2 linked regions of the Homo sapiens genome follow. The protein of the gene in region 2 purifies or fractionates together with the protein of the main gene of each other region. This does not show direct contact. Each region holds a gene or a part of one and is shown on either strand. Other genes may lie near its edges.

Evidence for each region. Proteins that work in one complex are often made in the same cells at the same time.
Region 1: the proteins of PPAT (region 2) and TYMS fractionate together in Homo sapiens (co-fractionation; one large-scale study listed by BioGRID). This does not show direct contact.

The regions. Positions count from the first base shown.
Region 1 is NC_000018.10:667,529-670,897, reverse strand, and holds part of TYMS (thymidylate synthase), read right to left. Parts: exon of another isoform or gene 3,219-3,369; coding exon of another isoform or gene 3,146-3,218; intron 1,827-3,145; coding exon 1,725-1,826; intron 581-1,724; exon of another isoform or gene 207-580; coding exon 31-206; exon of another isoform or gene 1-30. UniProt on the Homo sapiens protein: Catalyzes the reductive methylation of 2'-deoxyuridine 5'-monophosphate (dUMP) to thymidine 5'-monophosphate (dTMP), using the cosubstrate, 5,10- methylenetetrahydrofolate (CH2H4folate) as a 1-carbon donor and reductant and contributes to the de novo mitochondrial thymidylate biosynthesis pathway.
Region 2 is NC_000004.12:56,401,030-56,404,685, reverse strand, and holds part of PPAT (amidophosphoribosyltransferase), read left to right. Parts: intron 1-1,284; coding exon 1,285-1,397; intron 1,398-1,500; coding exon 1,501-1,646; intron 1,647-2,504; coding exon 2,505-2,577; intron 2,578-3,204; coding exon 3,205-3,356; intron 3,357-3,656. UniProt on the Homo sapiens protein: Catalyzes the formation of phosphoribosylamine from phosphoribosylpyrophosphate (PRPP) and glutamine.

The DNA of each region.
Region 1 (3,369 bases), on a different chromosome or scaffold from region 2:
TGGCAAGTCACCCTTCCCGAGACAGCCCACCTTCAGGCCCGTGATGTGCGCAATCATGTACGTGAGCAGGGCGTAGCTGGCGATGTTGAAAGGCACACCGAGGCCCATGTCTCCCGATCTCTGGTACAGCTGGCAGGACAGCTCACTGTTCACCACATAGAACTGGCAGAGGGCATGGCATGGAGGCAGCGCCATCAGAGGAAGATCTGAGGAACCAGCAGAGGAAGATAAGGAGGGATGGTGGTTTGAAAGACCACAGCTAAAGGCAAAGTAAAACAGGAGAGAAACAGAAGCCAACTCATATGGTGGAGACCAGGAGAGAGAGCCACTGGGCTGCAGTGATGTCCATAACAGCCTCTGCAGCGATGGCACGGAGCTGAGGGAGACTATCCATCGGTGCAAGGTTTCTGCAGGTGTCCATTTACGGCTGAAGCAATGCTCTTCCATCAGAGCTGAAGGGATCTGGGCTACCTCGTGGCACCAGATTACAAATACAGCAGGAATAATTCTGTTTGCCACAGGAAACTGGTGCTTCTGGTACACCCTCCTATATTAAAAGTCTCTATTACATGGCCAGGCACAGTGGCTCATGCCTGAAATCCCAACACTGGGACGCCAGGGTGGGCAGATCACTTGAGGCCAACTTGAGTTCGAGACTAGCCTGGCCAACATAGTGAAACCCCGTCTCTGCTAAAAATACAAAAATTCGCGCGCCTGTGGTCCCAGCTCTGGGGCTGAGGAATGGGAACTCACTTGAACCTGGGAGATGGAGGTTGCCGTGAGCGGAGATCACACCACTGCACTCCAGCCTGGGCAACAGGGTGAGACTGTGTCTCAAAAAAAAAAAAAAAATAAGTCTCTATTACAGATGCAAGTATTTCACTCTAAGTACTTATGATATCCTGATAGAGTTTTGTTGTTGTTGTTGTTTTTAAATATTCAGGGTCTCACTCTGTTGCCCAGGCTGGAGTGCAATGGCGTGATCATGACTCACTACAGCCTCAAATTCCTGGGTTCAAATGATCCTCTCGCCTTGGCCTCTGGAGTTGTTGGAATTACAGGTGTGAGCCACCACACCTGGCTCTACACCCTGGTAGAGTTGAATTTTACAATATAATTGTTAAAAATGTTAGTGAGGTGGCAGCGAGCTGGAACTTCATCTGCTTCCATTTAAAATGTTAACATCTTACATGTAGTTTCTAGGCAATTTAAAACCCTTTTTGGTGTAAGAATGAGTATAAATACACAAATTAAGATCATCTGGTTGGGAGGCTGAGGCAGGCAGATCATCTGAGGTCAGGAGTTCAAGACCAGCCTGACCAACATGGTGAAACCCCGTCTCTACTAAAAATACAAAATTAGCCGGGCATGGTGGCACATGCCTGTAATCCCAGCTACTTGGGAGGCTGAGGCAGGAGAATCACTCGAACCCAGGAGGCAGAGGTTACAGTGAGCCAAGATCACGCCGTTGCATTCCAGCCTGGGCAACAGAGCAAAACTCTGTCTCAAAAAAAAAAAAAAAAAAAAAAAATCCTCTGGGCCCAACCTCATGATCTGAAGGTGAAAGTGCAGCAAAATGTGACTTGCCCAACGTCACACAATCAACCATGTGGCTGGGGGAAGTTCCCAGGGTCCTGCCTCCCTCAGGTGCCTCTGCACAAAACCAGATTGCTTCCCTCTAAGAGTATGGTTAGTATAAATGAAGACGACGGGGTTCTTTCAACCTCTTGGATTCCAAGCGCACATGATGATTCTTCTGTCGTCAGGGTTGGTTTTGATGGTGTCAATCACTCTTTGCAGTTGGTCAACTCCCTGTCCTGAATAATCTGTAGAATTGTCAAAAAGAGAGGACAGGTACATACATTAATCACACATGTCATGAGATGGCCTTAGAGGTCATCTATTACAGTCTCTTACCCAGGGTCCCCCCTTGACCCATGGCTACAAGACATCTGGTGCATCCTGCAAAGTTTGCAGATCTCGGTGGGTTGAGTTCAAGGCCCTGTCTGACTCCTGGCTCTGTCCTCTGGAGCCCTAACAAAGTCTTTTTCCTCTTCTACACAGTCCTTTGAATATTTGGTCTGTCATGGAGTCACCTCCTCCTGTTCCCCCCATAGCTAACCCTTTCCAATCTCAACAATCTTAATTTCTTCCAGTGCTCCTCGCAAACTTAGGCTCTAAACCCATCAGCGATTCTTGTCACAATTTCACTGACAAAATCTACTTTATCCTTGTCTCACAGAGAGTGTTGTATCTTATGTAGAATATAGTATTCCATATACTTTCCAACTAACAGAGGACCATGGATTCCTTTCTATCACCTCAGCAGCATGTTTCCAACACTTCCACCTAAAATTACTTTAGAGTTTAGCAGCTCAACACACGACTGACTTGGAAACATCAGGAAACCTCTGTAATGATTACACCACCTTGTACTTTGCTCCCATTTCTGGTCTCTGGATTTTAATCCCTTTCCTTCCTTCTGAGATGGAACTGGAAGCTGAGAAGTGATTTGTTAACTGAAGTGCAGAGCTTCATAATCTCCTTTGGTTAAATTTCTACCTATTAGTGTCAGACTATATTCTGGTTCAGTAGTTCTCAAAATTTTGGGAGGAAAGTCCTCTCATGGTCACTGTTCCGAAAAAGGTAACATCAAAGATTTTAAAAAGATGAACCTTGGTAGTGTAGTTCTGTAACTTGATTGTAGTGGTTACAAGAGTCTACACGTGCTAAAATTGCAAATACACACATACACAAGTGCACGTAAAACTAGCAAAATCTGACAACTCTGAGGAATGCACCAATGTGAATGTATACAGGATGTTACCCAAGATATTATCACTGGGGGAAACTGGGTAGTGTGTCCAGGGAAACTTTCTGTGCATTAAAAAAAAAAAAAAAAAAATTCCTGTGAATCTGTAAAACAAAATTAAAAACAAAAAGGGACAAACTTTCCTACTAAAATCCAACAGCTAAGCATTCATACCACTGTAAACTAAAACCATAATTTTATTAGGCCTTTTAAGCGACAAGAAATAATTGAATACTAGGCAGGATTTAAAGCATCATTAAGCCCGGGGACTGGCCTCACATCCTACGGACACCCTACAACTGAGGTGCAGGCAACGACCTGCAGAACACTTACCTGCACAAGTAACTTGGCCCACGCAGCAGCTTTTTTCATTGTGATAAAGTACACATAATATTAAACTTGCCATTTTTGTGTGCAATTCAGAAGCATTAAGCACGTTCCTGATGTTAGGCAACCATCACCATCACCCATCTCCATCACCATCACCATCACCATCACCATCACCATCACCATCTCCATCACCATCACCATCTCCATCACCATCACCATCACCATCT
Region 2 (3,656 bases):
CAGACAATCATGAAAGTATAAATATGGAGTAAAAATTTCTTAAAAATTCACCACTTAGAGATAACCACTAACTCACTGTTTCCTGACATAATGACTTACCTAGATGCTAAACTTTATCTTTACCTTTAGCTCCCTACTGAAAATGTTCTGTAGTGCCCATTCAGACTCAATCTGTGCATGTCCATGGGGCTGCCCTTGTCTTGGTCAGTCCTGCTCAGAACTTTGTAATTATCATAGAGTACACTCAAGCGATATTTATTACATCTGCTACATTTCATTGTTCAATACAGTTGATTACTTTCTTCTATCAGTAATAATCAATGAGGATGGGTAGCCACCATTATGATCACTAACAAACCCAGCTTGAAAGTTATCACTGTAGTGTACTACTTTTATAGGAATATACCCAGTTCATCAAGAGTGTTGAGGGTAGAAAATGTCAGACCCACAAATCAAATTTTTGGGAACCCCTACCCACTTTCAGGTCTGCTTGCCTTCAGATTTAGTATTCAAAAGCTTTTCTGTACATCTCATAAAGCACATTTTTCCTGCTTGAAAATCTTCTAGATTTCCTATTGCCTCCAGCCATGGTCATCCGTTATTAGTATATACATACTATTAGCGCAGGAGTCCCCAACCCCTGTGCTAGGGACTAGTACCAGTCTGTGGCTTGTTAGGAACCAGGCCACACAGCAGGAGGTGAGTGGTAAGTGAAACTTCATCTGTATTTATAGGTGCTCCCCATCGCTCACTATTACCACCTGAGCTCTGTCTCCTGTCCAGATCAGCAGCAGCATTAGATTCTCCTAGGAGCATGAACCCTGTTGTGAGCTGTGCATGCAAGGGATCCAGGTTGTGCTCTCCTTATGAGAAGCTAATGTATAATGCCTGATGATCTGTTACTGTCTCCCATCACCCCCAGATGGGACTGTCTAGTTGCAGGAAAACAAGCTCAGGGCTCCCACTGATTCTAGATTATGGTGAGTTGTATAATTATTTCATTATATATTACAGTATAGTAATAATAGAAATAAAGTGCACAATAAATGTAATTCGCTTGAATCATCCCCAAATCATCCCCTGTCCCTGGTCCATGGAAAAATTGTCTTCCACCAAACTGGTCCCTGGTGCCAAAAAGGTTGGGGACTGCTGCATTAGTGGGATGCAGGATTTTTGTAACTGGACATCCACAGAATGCCTTATTTTCATTATGGTTGGCTACTGGGTTTGGGGTGGGGTGGAGCTTCCCCTCTGATGATTAAACTTCTCTTTTTTTCTATATAGCTTCTGCGTCATGGTATTGGTCTGTCTACAAGTTCTGATAGTGAAATGATTACCCAGTTACTGGCGTATACCCCTCCTCAGGAACAAGATGACACCCCAGACTGGGTAGCCAGGTAAGCAGAGAACTGGACTAAACTTAGAGCTCTAGTAAGGAGAGTTTTGCCTTGCATATGTTTATAACTGAAGTTATTCATTCAATTATTTAATTAATTCCAGGATTAAAAACTTGATGAAGGAAGCACCCACAGCATACTCCCTGCTTATAATGCACAGAGATGTTATTTATGCAGTACGAGATCCTTATGGAAATCGTCCCTTATGCATTGGTCGTCTTATTCCAGTGTCTGATATAAATGACAAAGGTAATAAACTTTAGAAGGAATATCATTTCATAGTGTTTTTCCATTATTGTCCTACTGCTATCAAGCCCTGAAATCTTTAGGTATAGAAAGTTGATGGGTGGGAGGGAGCTAGGTAAGAAAAATAAAAATAAATGTATTCTTCCTTTTTAAAGTACGTTTCTTTGAGTACTCCTGAGGATGAGTCCCCCCCCTTTTTTTTTTTTTTTTTTTTTTTTTTTTGGAGACCGAGTTTCACTCTTGTTGCCCAGGCTGCTGGAGTGCAGTGGTGCGATCTCAGCTCACTGCAACCTCCACCTCCCAGGTTCAAGTGATTCTCCTACCTCAGCCTCCCGAGTAGCTGGGATTACAGGCGCACACCACCATACCCAGCTAATTTTGTATTTTTAGTAGAGACAGGGTTTCTCCATGTTGGTCAGGCTGGTCTCAAACTCCTGACCTCAGGTGATCTGCCCACCTTAGCCTCCCAAAGTGCTGGGATTACAGGCGTGAGCCACCACGCCTGGCTGGATGAATCCCTTTTAATGTTTTTAATAGAGATTCCTATTTTTTCCTGTCTTAATTGGCTATTCATGTCCTTTGCCTAGCTTTTTCATTTCTGCAGTATGATTTTAGTGGTTTCTTTTCACTTTTATCAAGATATCTTTTTCTAGCCATGAAATCATAATGTTAGAAGGAATCTTAGAAGATCATTTATTTTATCTTTGGCTCAAGTCAAATGAGGATCCATGTGCTCTTAAAGTCATAGAAATGGCTATTCTATGAGTTTTATTTACTTATTTATTTAGTGTTAGCTGTTCCATTGAAATAGCCTCTTAAAATTTCTGGAATCCATTAATTGAATTGATTTGTGATTTACAGAGAAAAAAACATCAGAAACAGAAGGATGGGTGGTGTCTTCAGAATCTTGTAGCTTCTTATCTATTGGTGCAAGGTAAGTTTTACCTTGTTTGACATATTTTATTTTCCCATGTTGAAAAGAATTTTTTTTAGACAGTTTCTTATTTATGTGAAAGTTTGAAAGTTTTCTTTTTGATGTCTGCAAGAAAATATTTATAAATGGTTTTTCTTATGCATGTTATGCTCAGCAGTTGCACTGAGTTTAATGTTCTAGTAATAGCTTCTAATTCTGAAGCTGGCATTCTTTCAAGATACTATGAAACTTATTTTCTTTATTTTGTATATTTTTCTCTTTTTACAGTACAATATGAAAATAGAGACTTATTTTAGAAAGGAAGAACTTCCTCAATGAGAGATAGTTATGACAGAAAAATGTAAGCCAGGAGAAAATGTTTTCTTTATACTTTATTCTTTTAAAATTCAATACAACTTAGGGCCCTTAATTTTTTAATTCTATACTAGAACTTAGTGTTTACAGAGAGATTATAAAGAAATCATTGCAGGAGACATACCACTTTAAAAAGTCACTTCTAGATTTTATATTGAATGAATCAATTGTTTCTCTAAGGGAAGGTACTCTGTGTGCTTTATAATTAATATTTTCATCAGCCTTAAGGACTAGTTTATTAAAAGTCTTCTTTCTTTAACATTGTTTCCCAAGATATTACCGTGAAGTCTTGCCTGGAGAAATTGTGGAAATATCCAGACACAATGTCCAAACTCTTGATATTATATCAAGGTCTGAAGGAAACCCAGTGGCTTTTTGTATCTTTGAATATGTTTATTTTGCAAGACCAGACAGTATGTTCGAAGGTAAGTAGATTTCTTTTCTTTGAACATTCATATAAATGTTTTAGCTATCTCCTTGAAACATGGCAATTCTTGCCTCAAAGGCTTACCTGGCTCTTTGAAGGCATATAGTTATATGTTGTGGATATAGGACTGAGCCCACAAGTCATAAGATCACTATTTTTCACTTCCTTTTGACTCTTGGATTTTGTTTTTTGTTAGGAGTAAGGATTATGATTTTCTAGATCTATATGAAGGTCGATTTTTTTTTTAAAACCACACAGTTGAGTTCCCCAGTTTGTGTATTTTCACATTCATATTTTT